Linked DNA regions of Homo sapiens: region 2 is linked to region 1. The links come from fine-mapping of genetic effects on gene expression. Tissue or cell type: whole blood. Region 1 holds a variant in brackets; the other region holds the start of a gene. All regions are shown on one strand. Distances are between the middles of the regions.

Region 1 (8,177 bases):
GAGCCAGCTGCGGAAACGGAGGCTGGGCTCTGTCTTGTACTGTAGAGAACTCTCTGGCCTGTTTTTTCACCTGCTTGATGGGACAGTTGCCCTGTGCTTCTCCCTTCCTCATAAGGTTGTCCTGAAGTTCCAATGTGAAATGCACTTGGTAAAGTGGCATTTGGAATCTACAACTATTGTGGGCTGAATCCTGTTAGTAGGGCTGCCCCACAGAAGGAACATCAGACCCAGAGTGGGGAGGTGAGGCATGTACTTAGGAAACACCAGGCCACCGGGGTCAGGGCCAGGCTGGGTGGAGCACAGGCTGAGTGCTGCTTGGCTTGGAGCAGGAGGCCCATTCATTTCCACTGGATGTTGATGGATGTACTGAAGGGGGTGAGGGTGGCCTGGCGTGCCTGGTTGTGGGACCCACAAGGGTGAGGGCAGGGAAGGGCCTTAGGTCCTGGGAGGACCTTGAGGGCCTTGAGCAGCTCTGTGGGGCAGCTCTGGAACTTCTCTCTAGGAGGGCACAGGTTGGGTCTGGGGGCAGGAAGCGCTGCAGCTTCTTCTGAGCGTGCAGCCAGTACACCAGCTCTGCTCCTGGCTGTTGGACACACAGGGCTTTCAGGAAACATTGATTTTGCACAAAGAATTCAGCCGCTGAAATGTCTGAAAACCACCCATCTATCTCGTCCAGATGGAAATAAGCGTGGGCTGTGCCGAACTCTTGGAAAGTCAGGGCTGGAGGAAAACTTCTAGTGGGGCTTTTTTTTCCTGTTCAACACTACGGGGCAGCTGGGATCTGGATTTGCCTAAAATATTGGGGATGTGTGGGGCAAATTCATGGTGTTGAGATGAGGGTGCCTAAGGGGGTACTTGAGTGCTGGGCAAAGGAGTTTAGACTGGAGGCCACAGTGGTGGGTGGGATGGAGACAGATGCCCAGAATCCAGGTCATGGTTCTCCCCAGCTCCTTGAAATGATGCTTTAGGTACCTGGGAGATTGCTGGAGGTTGGAAGTGGGGCTGAAGTGTGCTTTCCCACTGTCACTCTGGGTCTAGTCCCTGGTGGCAGCCAGGAGAGTGTCAGCAGGGCAGAGCACTGGGTGAGGTCTTAGGCCACTCTGAGTTTCTGCTGACCTTGAAATGTCCAAATGCCTGACTTCCTGGAAGTGAGCACATGAGCATTCCAGATACTCTTAACCCTATTCTCCCTGGGCCCCCCTCCCTAAGGCATTTGCCCCCAACACCTGGCTGCATGGAACCTAGAGATAGACAGGAGCCAGCCTTTTTCAGAAGAAGGCATTGCCTTTCCGTGAGTTGACCAGCTCCTTCCTAATTGTTACACTCCCCTCCCTCTGCTCCTTCCTGAAAGAACCAACAGGGCAGGGTCCCTCCCATCCAGGTAACACCTTCTCGCTTCCCAGGGACTTCCTTGTCTCAGAAGGCTCCCTAGAGGGAAAAGGAGAGACTGCCCTCCAGATGCAGAGAGGCTTGTGGTCTTTCTCTGCCATTTTGGAGCAGTAGAGGCCAGGTCTCTATCTATAAGGTGGAACAAACATTTAGCGGCTTGGGACTTTCGAAATCTCTGCAGCTGACTCAGGGAAAGCTGCTTCACCATGCTGTCTCGCAGTTAGTGGATGGTGCTCTAACGGTGTGCATCTCGTGTGTGTATCCTTAGCTATCCTGCAGGCCCTGGTGGGCAGGGATTACGTTCTGTGAACCACACACTTGGATCCTGGGCTCCCAGGATCCTGGAGTCACTCCGCCCAAACGTGGAGCTGCCAGCCCACAGTGTAGCCTGGCTTTCACCAGTAGGGAAACTTGACATTCTCCTGCAAGAGGAGAAAGAAATAAATTCTCCCCTGTTCCCATGTGGCATGTGATCACTGAGGGTCAAACCTAAAAATAACAGAGTGCATTAATCAGGATTAGATTTGGCTGCAAGTAATAGGAAAAGCCAAATAACAGTGGTTTACACAACTTGGAAGTTTATTTCTTCGTCCTGTCTAAGCCCAGAGTTTTGCAGACCAGGTCTGGTATAGTAGCTCTACCCTATAGTTTCCTTGGGGAACTTGATGTCCACCGCACTGTTCCCAGGCTGTGGCTTCAAGGGCTCATGGTTCAAGATGGCTGTGAAACTTAAGTCATCATATCTGTGTCCAGGCAGCAGGATCGAGACAGGGAGGAAAGGGGTCTTGTAAGGAAGGATTCCAGAACTTGGCATCTTATACTGACGCTTATGTCCCTGTCTTAGTCCATTTTCTGCTGCTATCACAGAATATCATGGACTGGGTAATTTATAATGAACAGAAATTTATTTGACTTACAATTCTGGAGGCTGGGAGGTCTAAGAGCACAGCACTGACATCTGCTTGGCATCTGGTGCAGGCCTTCTTGCTGTGTCCTCTTATGGCAGAAGGCAGAAGGGCAGGTGAGCATGTGAAACAGATAAAACTCACTCCCCAAATCCCAATTTTAAAAGGCATTGAGGGCGGGGCGTGGTGGCTCACGCCTGTAATCCCAGCACTTTGGGAGGCCGAGGCAGGTGGATCATGAGGTCAGGAGTTCGAGACCAGCCTGGCCAACATGGTGAAACCCCATCTCTACTAAAAATACAAAAATTAGCCGGGTGTGGTGGCGGGTGCCTGTAGTCCCAGCTACTCGGGAGGCTGAGGCAGAAGAATCACTTGAACCTGGGAGGCGGAGGTTGCAGTGAGCTGAGATCGCGCCATTGCACTCCAGCCTGGAGACAGAGCGAGACTCCGTCTCAAAAGAGAAAAAAAAAAGGCATTGAATCCACCGTGAGGACAGAGCCCTCATGGCCTAATCACACCTCTTAAAGGCCTCTTAATACTATTATAATGGCAATTAAATTCCAACATGAGTTTTGGAGGGGCCATTCAAACCATAGCAGTACTGTTAGCCTGTTAGTCACATGGCCCCAGGTCGCTGCAAGGGAGGTGGGGAATGCAGTCTTGGCTCTGGGCAGCTGTGTGCTCAGCTGGCTGTCCCTGCTTCTGGGGGATGAAGGCATTGTGAGATTTTTGATTAAATCTGGGCCATTTCCAGGCTGAAAAGCTGGACCAGAGCTTCAGGGCTTGAGTCTCTCACAGAGAGATTTCCCAATGGGGACATCAGTCCTGCCTTGGGACCAGAAAGCCACATGCTGTAGGCCAGGAAGGGGGAAGCAGGGGCTGAGCCCGAGGGAGAAAGGCTTTAGAGGTGTTAGCAGACAGCTCAGTGGCAGTGGTTAGAATTAGGGAGGCAGCGACCTCTTCTTAGTGTGGTCAGAGCATGCCAAGAAAGTGTGGTCTGTGTCTGGGCTGCTGAGGCCCGAGGGCAAGGGCCAAGCTCATTCATAGGACAGTGGCCAAGAAGCGGGGACTGAAAGGCTTGGGAAAAGTAAGGAAGCTCTGCAGGTTCTGGGACACAAGTGAACACGGTAAGCAGTGGAAGGCCCACCCCAGGACAGGGTTAGACTGGGAGCACTGTCTCCTTGTAGCCCACAAGAGGCCAGGGCAGGGCCCAAGTACAGTGTGGAAGTCCAGCCTGGTGGACTGCAGGGATCCCTGCCCAAGCCCACCCCCTGCTCACCTCCTCCAGTGGCACCTTGTTGTTGCACATTTTTTAATTCATCAAGAGAAGCCGGAGATCTAGATTTTTATTTGAAATTCATTGATTTCAAACTACGGGTGGCTAATTAGAGTGGAAAATACAAAACTATGATGATCATACAGATTGCTCCTGAGACCGACCCCTTTTTGCCTGTGGGCCACAAGCCGTCTCCCTCCAGTGAGGATGAATCCTCTGGGTCCTCAAGGGCAGAACCAGGAGGAATCCATGGAGCACTTCTCATAAGACAGCTTAACACTTTTTTCAGTTTTACTTTTGAAATTTTTTAACCCCCATTTTTTTATTTGGAAAAATTTTAAACCTACAGACAAATTGAAAGAGTTCGCCGGGTGCGGTGGCTTATGCCTGTAATCTCACCACTTTGGGAGGCCGAGGTGGGTGCATCATTTGAGGTTAGGAGTTCGAGACCAGCCTGGCCAACATGGTGAAACCCCATCTCTGCAAAA[A/T]AAATAAATAAATAAATAATTAAAAAATTAGCCAGGAGTGGTGGCACATGCCTGTAGTCCCAGCTACTTGGGAGGCTGAGGCAGGAATTGCTTGAATCCGGGAGGCGGAGGTTGCAGTGAGCCGAGATTGCACCACTGCCCTCCAGCCTGGGCGACACAGTGAGAATCCATCTCAAAAGATCAAAAAAAAGGAAGAGTGCAGTAAGTAAACTCCTGTCTGCCAACACCAGGTAAGATTTGTTCCATTTACTTCTCTCTCTAAATCATGAACGTCAGACATCAAGAGGCATTACCCCCAAACGCTTCAGCCTGTATTTCCTAAGAACAAGGGCATTCTCCTTTTAGCCACAATCTGAGGATGTTAACTTATTTATCCAGCATATACTCCATCCTCAAATTTTCCCAGTTGTCCTCAAAATGCTCATTACAGCCTTTCCCTGCTCCCCAATCTGAGATCCCATAGACAGAGCGGCAGAGCAGACCCACTTGGAGGCAGGCAACTAGGGGTGCTGGAAAAGGTCCTGAATTCCAGGAACCTGCAGGCCCGTGATGGCTGGCCCACACCCGGTGACCCAGGGACCGCTGCTGGCTGCGGGGCAGGCTTTGTCATCCCGAGAACCCGCCTGCCAGGTGAGCTGAGAGGGAGGCTTCCCCCTGCTCTCTGAGGGCGGGCAGGGACTTCCCCATCCCTCCACAGCTTCTCTCCACTCAGTGGGCCGACCTGATTTGCATTCCCACACTCTGCTGGCCCTGGGTGCTGGCCTCCATGTGCCACAGTGCCTCTGCGGGCCGTCCGGTCATTCTGTCCACCTTTGCCCACTTCCTGCTGCATGCCCACCTTGACTTGTCATCTCAGTGTGTGGCAGCCATGAGGCCTCCTTCCTGCCAGGACTTGGCGCTTGCTTCAAAGGCTCCCCAGGGATTGCAGGCTGAAGGCTGGAAGTCAGGGCTGCCCCCCGCAGTGGCAGCCCCGCCTGCAGAGCAAAGGACTGCATTTCCACACGTCCTCTAATTTCTGTTTTTAACTTTTAAACTATTTTTTTTCTAGTTTAGAAAAATATAAAAACACTTGAGAAACACATAATTTAGCAGGTGAAGGGTTCCTGTGATCCCAGCCCCCAGACAGCTTTATTTTAACATTTAGATTGGACTCTTCCTAGTTTTAAAGAGAAAGAGGCTGAGGGGCAGAGGTCATGAAGGATGGGTCTGTGGGACCCCCAAGAGATGAAGGAGTCGGGGCCAGGAGCCTCTGCCTCCATGAAGCCTGTCACCTGGGAGGTTCATGTCTTTGACTTTGCTCAGCCGTCACCTCTTCTGTAAACTGGGGATCCTAATTCTCGGCTCTCTTGAGGGCTGTAGCAAAGACACAAAAATCCTACCAGACTGTACAAGTGGAATTATTGTCAGGGGAACACGCGCTGCAGTGGGCAGAGTGCGCCTGGGCAGAGGGCCAGGGTTAAGGACACGGGGCCGGAGGAGCATGGGGTGCTTTGAGGTGGGTGGGGTGAGGGTTCTCTGGGTGAAGAGTTGTGACCTTTGCCCAACTTGGAAACTTATACAAATAACTAAACTTAAAAAGAAAATGTTCCTAGGGTAATCATGTTCATTGTAAGATGTTTAGAAGCGATGGATGAGCAAAACAGAAGAAAATAAATATCACCCTGCAGCTCACTACTCAGGAATAAGTACCATTGCTGTTGAAGTAGATGGCCCCCAGTCTTTGGTGCCTACTTGTTGAGAACCAGCCTTGGCCCATCATCAGTAACCAGACAGGGTGGGGAGGTAAAGTGATGGAGAGACTCTGCCCTGCCCTCTTGGATCAGATTCAAAAGGGAAGGAGATAGGTCAGTCAGGTGCTAGTGGCCCAAAGCTGGTGGGGGCAGAGGGTTGGAGAGAACTGGGCTGACTCAGGCTGGGCACCTGTTCTTCCAGGGGTGGAGGACTTGTGCGAGGGCCCAGAACAGAGCTGGGGCCTCCTGGTTCTTGAGGAAGGCCAAGAGCAGATGGGAACCTATCCCGAATGGCTTACCAGACAAAGCAGAATGAGGAGAGTGATGTGATGATCGTGGTTGTTAAGGAGGGTGGCTGCTGTGGCCCAGCCCAGCCTGGCTCTGCCCTGCTGGCTGCCTTGGTTGAGAGCCAGGGACTGCTGGCCATTCACAGATGGCGCCTGGGCGAGGCCCCTGGTTCTAGTCCTGGTCCTGAAGGTTCACGTCTGTGGCAGCTGGCAGTTGCTGGGAGTTCAGTGCAGGGTCAGCCATGGTGTGGGGGGATGAGGTCAGGGCAGATGAGGAGTTGGAGCCCTCGCTGTGCTGTGTGTCGGGCCATCCAGGTGTTGCTCTGCACACATTCACTGATTTCATCTTTATACGGTCCAGCAGGGGAGGTACCGGTGGTCCTCAGTTTACAGTTGGGGAAACAGTTTGGGGAAATCAAGCCATGAACCCAAGATAATGTGACTAATGCATGATAGAAGTGGGGTTCAGCTGGTGTCCTGCCCAGAGCCCACGATTCACAGAGCCTAAGCCCTGTGTCCCCAGCCAGGGGTCAGGATGTGAAGAGTTGCCACTCCTGCAAGCCCTCGCTTTTCTTTTTGTTCAATGGGAATGAAAACACCAACTTTCTGGGGCTTTTGCATGCCTCTAACAGATATTTATTAAACTCTTACCTGCCACAGGCACTGGGCTCAGCCCTGAGTACCCTGAGCTGAGCAAGAGGTGTCCTCAGGGTCACAGAGGACTTAAGACTCAGAGCAGTGCCACCCAGTAGAAATCTCACAGGAGCCACGTGTGGCACTTTATTTTTATTTTTTTGAGATGGAGTCTCGTTCTGTTGCCCAGGCTGGAGTGCAGTGGTGCGATCTCAGCTCATTGCAACCTCTGCCTTCTGGGTTCCAGCGATCCTCCTGCCTCAGCCTCCCGAATAGCTGGGACTACAGGCGTGCAACCACCACGCCTGGCTAATTTTTGTATTTTTATAAAAAAGGCACAGTTTTTCCATGTTGGTCAGGCTGGTCTTGAATTCCTGACCTCAAGTGATCCGCCCACCTCAGCCTCTTACAGGTGTGAGCTATCGCTCCCAGCCTTGTGTGGCACTTTAAACAGCTGCCTTCAAATACAGATGAATGAGTGAACTTAGTTTTAATAACATATATTATTTAACTCAGTATATCAAAAGATTATCATTTTGAGATGTAATCAACATAAACTATGTTTTGGTTCTTAGTTTTTTATTTTTTGAGACAGAGTCTCACTCTTGTCCAGGCTGGAGTGCAGTAGTTCGATCATGGTTCACTGTAGCCTTGACCTCCTGGGCTCAAGCGATCCTCCTGTCTCAGTCTTCTAAGTTGCTGCTACTACAGGCATGCACCACCACACCTGGCCATTTTTTTTTCTTTCTATCTTTGGCAGAGACAGCGTTTCTGTGTTGCCCAGGCTGGTCTCAAATTCCTGGGCTCAAGCAATCCTCCTGACTCGACCTCTCAATGTGCTATTATGGACATAAGCCACTGTGCCCAGCCCCAATATACATTGTTAATGAGATATTTTACTGTATTTTTTTTTTTGTAGCTAGTCTTCAGAATCCGGTATGTATGTTACACTTGCAGCATGTCCTAGTGTGGACCAGCCAGATTTCCAGGGCTCAGTGATCACAAGGCACACAGCCCAGCTTCAGAGGCCAATGGGCCAGTGTCCCCCAAACACCTAGAATCACCTTACCTTTATTGGCCAGGCCCTTTTCTGAGGTCTTTACCCACAAGATATTATTTAACTTTCGCAACTACCCCATGAAGGAGGTGCTACTGTTGTTCCCATTTCACAGAAGTGGCAGCAGAGGTCCAGAGAGGTTATGGGGCCAAGGTTGCACAGCTGATGAATGACGGAGCTCAGTGGGAAGGTGTCACGAGAGGAGAACATTGTGGGACAAAGGATGGGGACACCTCTTGTTTTTAACAGATTTACTGAGGTAGCGTTCATACAATGAAATTACCCCTTTTTAAGTGTTCATTTTTTTTTTTTTTTTTGAGATGGAGTCTTGCTCTGTCACCCAGGCTGGAGTGCAGTGGTGCAATCTCAGCTCACTGCAGCCTCCGTCTCCTGGGTTCAAGCGATCCTCCTG
Region 2 (8,177 bases), 34 kb before region 1:
GGCGAAATCACAGGCCACAAGACTCCCACCCTGAAGGGTGCACATGATCCCTGTTCTTGGCAGTAAGGTGGTCACAAGGAGCAAGGCCAGCCCATGTCCTGATGTTGTCCACTCCTCAGGTCCAGTGTCCCTCAGCTGTGGCAGATGTCAGGGAAGAGTGGGGAGTAGAGAAGAGCAGCAAGGGCCTGTTTCCCATCTTTGATCAAGATTCATCTTTGCTGGTTTGAACCCAGCTCCTCTGCTTTCCAGCGAGTCATTTGTGCCTGTCAGGAAATCATTTTTGGCTTGAGTGTTCCCTGGAGGGAATCTGGGGTTCCCACAGCTCATGTTTTTGCCCAGGAACTGAACTTGGGAGCTCTCTCCCAAGAGCACCAGCACCTTGCTTGGGCTGATGGGGCAGTGGATGGCCACAGGCGAGTCTGTCGGGGCGTGAGTAACAGGTTACTCATATTCTTTGCAGCAGCAGCTTGTCTGGTTTTGGACGGTTGCAGGTGCTTTGTGTGTGTGCTACACGTACACACACATACACACATGCTCACTTATAAAGCCACACTCACTCCCACTAGACACTTGCACAAACATGGATCCCTGCAAATATGAGTTCACGCACGAGCAATACAAGCATGATAACATGGTGTCTTGGACGTTTGTGTGTGGGGGATGTGGGTGCTGGCAGTGCTGGTGGAGTGCTGGGTGAGTGGGGGTCAGTCCCGACCTCTCTCCTTCCTGAGATCCTGTTCTGGGACCCATGAATCTTTTCTCAGGGGATTTTGGGCTTCTGCTCTGAGCTTCCAGATTTCTCAGGAATCTTCTGCTGCAGTTTGAGAGGCTCAAATGGGCTCAACTGAGAGCTGGCTCGACTGATTCTTTCGTTCTGCCTGGGGCTGGGGAGAGAGCAGGATGCCTTCTCTTGGGTGTACCCAGGGCTGCTCTGTGGCCTTCTCTCCTTCAACATTCAGTCCTTGTTCCCCTCCCAGGCCCACGGTGGGGCAGATCTGACTGAATCTTTCTTGTGGTTGGGACTTTTCTAGCCCCATAGCCAGCAGACAGCCAGGGCTGCAGGACTCGCTATTCTGAGTAGGGACTTGGCAGGCCCTCTGGGGGGCTGGTGGTGGGCTGGTGAGGCTGGGCACTGTGGTTTGGATGCAGTCTGTGGCCTGACCCTGAGGAACCTCCAAGCCCTCAGCCCCCTACCTACCAGCTGAACCCTGAGGCTAACTGTTAGATCCAGAAGGGTTGTGACTGCAGGCTGTCCTGAGAACATCTTTGTCCTGGGCTTTTCTGCTTGGTTCAACAAGAACACCTACTGTGTGTGTGGTGAGTACAAATGAATGTATGGAGACGTGCCAGGCACTGTGCTGTGGGCCAAAAGACAGGTCAGGCACAGGTAGGACATAGCTTTTGTTCTCTGGGAGCTAGAGAGGCACACCGCCGTGGATCCCAGCATCTGCTGGGCAGGGAGGGTGAGGGGAAGCAAAGTGTGTGTATTTGTATGTGTGTATTATGTGCATATGTGTATGTGCTATGTTTCTGTATGTATATATGTGTGCATGCATCCCTATAGGTATGCATGTTTATGTATATATTTGTATACATATATGTGCATGTATGTGTATACATGTGTGCATACACATGCACATGTATGTAAATGTATATTTTGCACCTGCTCACACACATGTTGCTCCTACCTTAGTCCTGGCCTAGAAGAGGACATTATCCTGGAATGCATCCTCAGGATGGCAGGCTTCAGCTGGGGAGTCTGACAGCTGGTGGGATGGGATATGGGGCTGTGGCAAGAGGAAGAAGGAAGGAAACTGTGGCCCAGGATGGAGTCCTAAAGTGTGCCACACACGATGCCTGGACATTACTTGCCCAGCTCACTGGCTTCTCAAATACCTCTTTGAAGGAGGATGAAGCCATCTTATGGATGTAGAAGTTGGGAATCTGAGAACTTACGTCACTTTTCCCAGACCACACAGCCAGTAAATTGTGAGCCACTTTGAGCCTAGCTCTGCTGAACTCTGAAGGTCAGGTCTGTTTCCCAAGGCCACTATGGGATTTTCTCTGCTGCTGTCCTTTTCACACACCTTGGGTGGCGCAGGAGCAGGTATGGAGCTGAGGACAAGTCTTCCCTGGGCCTGTTTCCTCATTTGTTAAAATAGGGATCAGAAAAGTACCGACCTTATAACTTCGCGAGGCACTTAAGAGCTAGGTGCTAGGGACATGGTGAGACCACCACAATGAGTGATTTCTCTTGTCTTCAGTTATTCTTAGGGGTCATGGGGAATGTGTTCCCCTCTCCCAGCCCAGCGCTCTCCAGCCTGACAGAGGTGGGGCCTACACTGCCTGCATCCTGGGGCAACCCCAGCTCGCCGAAATCCAGCTCCAGTCCTGAATGGGGGTGAGGCAGGTGGTAACAGGTGAGAAAAAAGGATTTCCCGAGTGTGGAGCAGCGAGAGGGAGGAAGTGACTCACCAACCACAACAAAGCCTATCTCTCCGCGAGGAAGCACAGCGAAGAGTGAACGCACGCACGTGGGTGCGTTCACCCACGTGCTCGCGGGGGCGTGCGGGGCCGTCGGAGTGGGCCGGGCTGGCTGCCGCCTAGTGCTAGTCCGCGCGTGTGGGGTGAGGAGTGGTGGGGGGGGCAGGCCTATGGTGCGGGTCACTGCCTGGAGCCGCATGATGGGTGGGGGCGGAGGGACCCCTCTCCATCCAAAGCTCTGCTCTGCTGTTCCCCTCTCACCTCTGGGGGCCGAGGGGCGCGTTTCCTTAGGACCCCGGGGCGTGGGAGAAGCCCCTGCTTGGGGGGACCGTCTGCTGTTTAGGGGCTCCCCTTCGACACGTGGGAGGCAAAAGTGCAGAGCGCACCATCATCCAGCTCCGGCCGCACTGCACAGCGAGGCCGGCCCGGAGCCCGGATGCTGGGCTCGGTCCCGCCGAGGCTCGGCCTGGCTGTAAAGCAGAGGGGGGCGAGGGAAGCCGGGCCAGCGGGTGTCGCGGGTAGCCGGCGTCCGGGACGGGGTGTGGCGCCCAGAGCGCTGCTGCCTCTCGCAGCCAGGAGGCTGGATGTCGGGTTTGGGTGTCTTCCAGAAGGAGCCGCACTAGCGACGAGGGAAGAGGAACTGGCTTCCCGGGCAGTCTCCCCCGCCCCAAACTTTTCCTCCTCGCGGAGGGTGGGCGGGCGGAGGGAGGAAGCGCAGCCGGGGAACGTGGCGCCCGCGTTCCTCCCGCCCGGGGGCTGCGGCTGGGCTGAGTGTGTCTTTAAATCTGAGCCCCCCGCCCCTCGCGGTGGGGCCGGGACTCGCGGTCCGGGCGGGGGCGGGCGCGGTGATTGGCGGCCGGGTCGGGTCCGCCCCTCGGCGTTGGGTAGCGGGGCGCTGGGGAGCAGCGCGGCGCGCACGGGCCGGGGCGCGCAGGTCCCGTCGCCGGTGAGCACGGGCTCCCTCTCGCGTGGCCTCGCCGGGTCCGCCTGGCCTGCCCACCTCCGGAGCCACCTCTGCCCCCGCATGGGCTGGCGAAGTTGGGAGGAGCGAGCTGGAGCCAGAGCGCGCGCCGGGCGCGCCCCGTCGCTGCCTGACTCGGCGCCCGCAGTTCGGGCGCAGCACGCCGGCCGCAGGAGCACGGATGCCCCCCGGAGCCGCGGGCTGGCAGGTACCGAAGTGTCCTGCCCTGGGGCTGGCGAGGGGAGGGCAAATCTGGAATCCCCCGGGCACCCCCCAGCCCGAGGCTGCTCCAGACACCAACTCCCCATCCTTTGGAGAGGTGAGGTCCTGGGCCTTCACCCCACACCCGCTCAGGATTGGTCCCTGGGAGGCAAGAGGGACTCACAGGGAGCAGTTGCTGGGTGGTTGTGTGTGTTGGACCCTGGGCTACCCCCTCTCCCGAGTTCCCTGGGTTTGGTGTAGGCATGGCCTGGTGACAATTCCACTTTTCATTGCCAGACCTGGGAGCATGGCCAGGAGCTAGGGTTTCCCGCGAAGTTAGGGGGAGATTGGGGAGAGGGAAGCCGCTTCATGACCGAGATGGGGTCCTGGGACTCATCTCTAGGGGGCGTGAGGCCCTCAGACCCAGGACGAGTCCAGAAGTCTCAGCGGGCACAGGCTTTGATTCTTGGCCCAGTCTGGCCCTCTTCCTCTGTAGGCCCGGGTCTCCAAGGAGAGTACGTTTTTCAGTTTCAGAGGGTTTTCCTGAAGGGGCAGTAACCTGTCAGAGAGAGAGTGGCCTATGGGAGACCCGGCTCCTGAAGGTGGCCGGGATGGTTGGAGCCCTTTCTCTTGGGTTGTCAGAGATGGGAGTAAAGCTTCATGGCCCAGGGAATCTTCTGGGCATCTCTACTCTCCCAGCCAGAGGCCCAGGAACCAACTCCTTGGCTTCTGGGTAGAGTAACCTGAACCCAGTGGCCGAGCACCTCTTAAATGCCAGGAAGGGCACTGGGCCGTGCCCCTGGAATGTGTGGATGGAGGAGGATTTGGAGGATTCTGTCCTCAGGAGGCTCAGCCCCTGGGGGCAAGACAGGACATAAACACACAAAGTTCCCCGATACAGGGTTTCAATACCAGTCCTGAACTGGTAATAGTGGAAAGCCAAGAGGCTACACACCATTAATTGCTATGTGAGTAATGTAGGCTGCGAGAGTGCCAGGGCAGCAGAGATCCAGTTCCATGCAAGCAAGCAAATGTGCTGAAATGTTCCAGCTCCATGCCCGCCCTTCCTTATTACCTTGCTCCAAGGGCAGGGAGCAGCAGGGGCGCTGAGGAGGTTCTCCTGCACTCATCCCCACCCACTCCCAGGTTTGTTTGTTTCCTGCTGGTGGATTTCTGAAATAACCCATTTGGTTTCTTGGCTTGGGCTGAGCACAGGACACTCCTAGTTGCCCTGTGGCTCCTGGGGTTTGGGGTCTAGAGCCAGCCTTGTAGGAGGTTCAGAGGTAAGCAGGAGGAAGTCCTCACTTCCTTTCTGAAGAGCCTCTGTCGCGGGGGGTTGGGGTAGGTCGGGAGGCTGGCAGGCACTGGGCCAGTTTCCTATGAGTGCAGACAGACCCCAGGTGGTGCATGCACCCCCCTCCCTTTCCTGGCCAGTGTTGGGGGTGGGCACAGTAGGGCCCAGGTGGCTTGAGGTGGGTGGTTCCTGGCACAGCTCTGACCTCACTTCTGTGAGGCTCTGCTGTATCTGGGGCCCTGCCCCCTCCCTCATTGTCCCTGGCAGGTTTCTGTTTTTCTGGAGCACTTCGTGGAGGTGGCAGTGTGCTCATGCTCGTGGCCTTGGGTGCAGTTCTGGGAGTGGGAGTTGCTGAGCTCACCCGAAGCCCTTGGCTGGCACTGTGAGAACTTGTGTGAACACACTTGCCTGCCTCCAAACAGGTGGTGCACAGACCTGGGTTACCCAGGCACCTGTGGGGGATGCCCCGTGTGGGCAGAGACGTGAGTGCGTGTGTGTGCTCAGGTTTACATCTGTGTGGGCAGAGACGTAGAGGAGCTGGATACATATATACTTGAGGACAGACACAGGAGGATGGTGGGGGTGAGCAAACAACCCAGGGACACAGACATGTGCGGGGACAGACATACATGAACCCATCAGCGTGGGCCACGTATGGGCTGCAGACACGTACATAGAAATACACCATTGCTGGGATCTGAATCTCCCCACATGGGAGGCAGACATGTAAGTGGACAGACATATAGGTAGACCCAGCAGAGCACAGACGGGGATGGGAACCGACATTCCCAGACAAAAGACTCGGAGCCACAGGGAAGCCGCTCAAGTGCCTGGGCAGAATGGAGTTGGCTGTGAGCTCCTGGGGGGCACAGACACATATGCTTGCCAGAGCCAGCGGACAGCAGAGGCCAGGAACCAGACACAGGTGGGTTCTGAGAGGTAGGCCGAGGCGTGCATTGCCTGGTTATCACTGTTTCCCTGCGTGGCACAGTGCCCGGAAGTTGTCCTGTTTGGGGTGGTGATGGTACAGGTGCTCTGTGGTGGAGCTTATTTCTAGACTCTCACTTTGGGGTTTGAGGACCCCAAAAAGCTCAGTCTCCTGTGTTTTACTCAGAGTCATTTGGCCTCTCCACCTCTGCATTACAAGGCTGTGTTTGTGCCTTAAGTGCCAGCAGGTGCTCTTTGAATTTTGATTCTCATCTTCCCTGGATCTCCAGAGGCTTCCTGAAGTGAGGCTGTGTGGCCTGGGTAGGGTGCTCCAACTGTTCCTTTCCTACCAGAATAGGAGAGGAACTGTCTGGGGATTCTCCTTCTGAACCCAAGCCTGCGGGTCTTTGACAGGGATCCCCCAGGTGAGAGAGAGAGCACACATGTAGCTGCGTCTGTGATGAGAGCCACTGCCCTCTGGGGCGGGCTCCTTCTCTGCTAAGCCGTGGGCTTGCACAGGGAAGGGGTCCCCCACCTGGCTATGCTCAGGTCTCCTCTGCCCAACCTGGCACCTGAGAGACAGCCCAGATTCTAGATATGCTTTGATACTAATGCACCATGCAACCTCCAGCAAGTCAATTAATGTATTGGTTTCCTCATCTTTAGAGTGGGGTCAGTAACCTCTACCTCCTTGTGGGTTCAGTGGGAGAAAATCAGTGCAAAGCATGTGGCCCAGTGCATGGCATGGAGTGAGTGCTCAGTTGATGTGGCGGTGGGGGCCTTTGATTATGAGCCATCCCCTGTGGCCAGGACTCTGCAGGGCTTCCTCAGCAGCCAGGTGCATGGCCCTGGGCCTCTGGGTGAGGTCTGGAGCAGGCTGGGTGGGCCAGGCACCTCTCCTGTGAAAGCTGGAGGGCTTTGTCCTCAGTCGGTGCCCACTAGTCCCTCCTTAGCCCTGTGGGACCTCCATACACGGGGTCAGGAAATGGCAGGCTGGGCGGGCGTATGGAAGCTTGGGCCTGCTGACTGCTGGGCCTCTGGGAGGGGAGCCAGTGTTTGCTAAGAATAGTCCCAAATCATGGCTTTCGTTTCCCAGAGGGCAGCCCAGCCATGTGCTGCCCCTGTCTTGGGCCAAGGCACTTGCAGATGGACTTTTTATGTTTCCTGTAACTGGTGCTCAGCACAGGATTGAGCCTGGGAGCAGCAGGCTTAGTCTGGGAGGAGGCTCTGTTTGTCTTCCGAGGCCTTTGGCTGGGACCCGGGGAAAGAGAAGGTCTGGAAGCACTGGCCTTTATAATCCCTGAGTTCCTTTTCCACTCAGGGCTTTTCCTGACACATCTGCCTCGACCATCTTCCTACCTGCAAATAGACCTGTTGTGATTAAGAACACTGGCTCTGGAAAGAAACTACCAGGGTCTGAATTTCTGCTCCCTCCCTCATTAGCCATGTGGCCCAGGGCAAGAAACTTAACCTCTCTGTGCCTCAAGTCCCTTGTGTAACAGGGTTAAGGATAGCAACTCCCTTATGAGAATGTCACAAGGATGAAAGGAGGTAATCGCAGAGAGCCTCCGAGGCTGTCTGGCTCCTAGGAAGTACTCAGTAAACATTAGGTGCTTATGTTATTACCACGATGTTATTCTCTCAGCAGAGGCCAGGATGCTTGCACAGGACCAGTTGGTGGGAAGGGACCAGCGTGGCATCTTGATGTGGGTTCCTGAGCTTTCTTGGCCCTGGGTTCAGTATGAGGTGCAGGGGCTCCGAAGGTAGATTAAACTCTGTCCCTGCCAGGAGGTGAGTGAGGTACATGCAGACACCATGTCTGGTTCTGTGATGGGGTCTGTGCTAGTTATGGTTGGAGCCTGAGGGAGGGAATGGCTGGCCTGGGGTGTGTGTGATACTTCACGTGGGCTTTGAGGGATGGCCAGGAGTTTGCAAAGGAGGAGGGCAAGGCTTCCCCAGCAGAAAGAGCAGCGTGGCAGAGGTGTGACAGCCCTTGTGAAGCGTTTTGTGTATTTCCCATAACTGGCATGTGGGCTGACTTTGGCTTTAAGGGGTGCCCCTGCCTGGGCTGAAGCTGGGGCACTGATGAGAGAGGCAGGTGGGGTGTCTGGGTCATCTGCACACCCATGGAAGGCAGTAGAGAACATCTTTGGGAACTGGGTGTGTCACTGCCAATGCTTTGGGCTCCCAGGGAGCTGGGGCTTTCAGAAATTCCCCAAGGAGAGAGGATGTGGTGCTGTGAGGGCTGTGGGTACCCTGGGAAACGGCCAACAGGCTGGGCTGGGGCCCATGGGAGGGGAGAGGGGTGGG

The links. PIP is the estimated chance that this variant, and not a neighbour inherited with it, causes the effect.
Region 2: it holds the start of PALD1, and the variant in region 1 is fine-mapped to the expression of PALD1 in whole blood (TOPMed, PIP above 0.99).

The regions. Positions count from the first base shown.
Region 1 is chr10:70,509,278-70,517,454 of GRCh38, forward strand. The region is part of intron 1 of PALD1 (phosphatase domain containing paladin 1); the gene reads left to right. Among named protein-coding and RNA genes, the nearest start is that of PALD1, 35 kb to the left of the region's middle. RefSeq lists enhancers at 4,164-4,699, 4,568-4,617, 4,700-5,234. The variant A/T (reference allele first, on the strand shown) is at 4,059.
Region 2 is chr10:70,475,407-70,483,583 of GRCh38, forward strand. It overlaps PALD1 (phosphatase domain containing paladin 1), which reads left to right and starts at 3,361. Exons shown (of 20, transcript NM_014431.3): 1 at 3,361-3,653. RefSeq lists enhancers at 1,067-1,146, 4,691-5,333, 4,977-5,156, 5,334-5,975, 7,469-8,016 and silencers at 2,977-3,046, 3,247-3,696.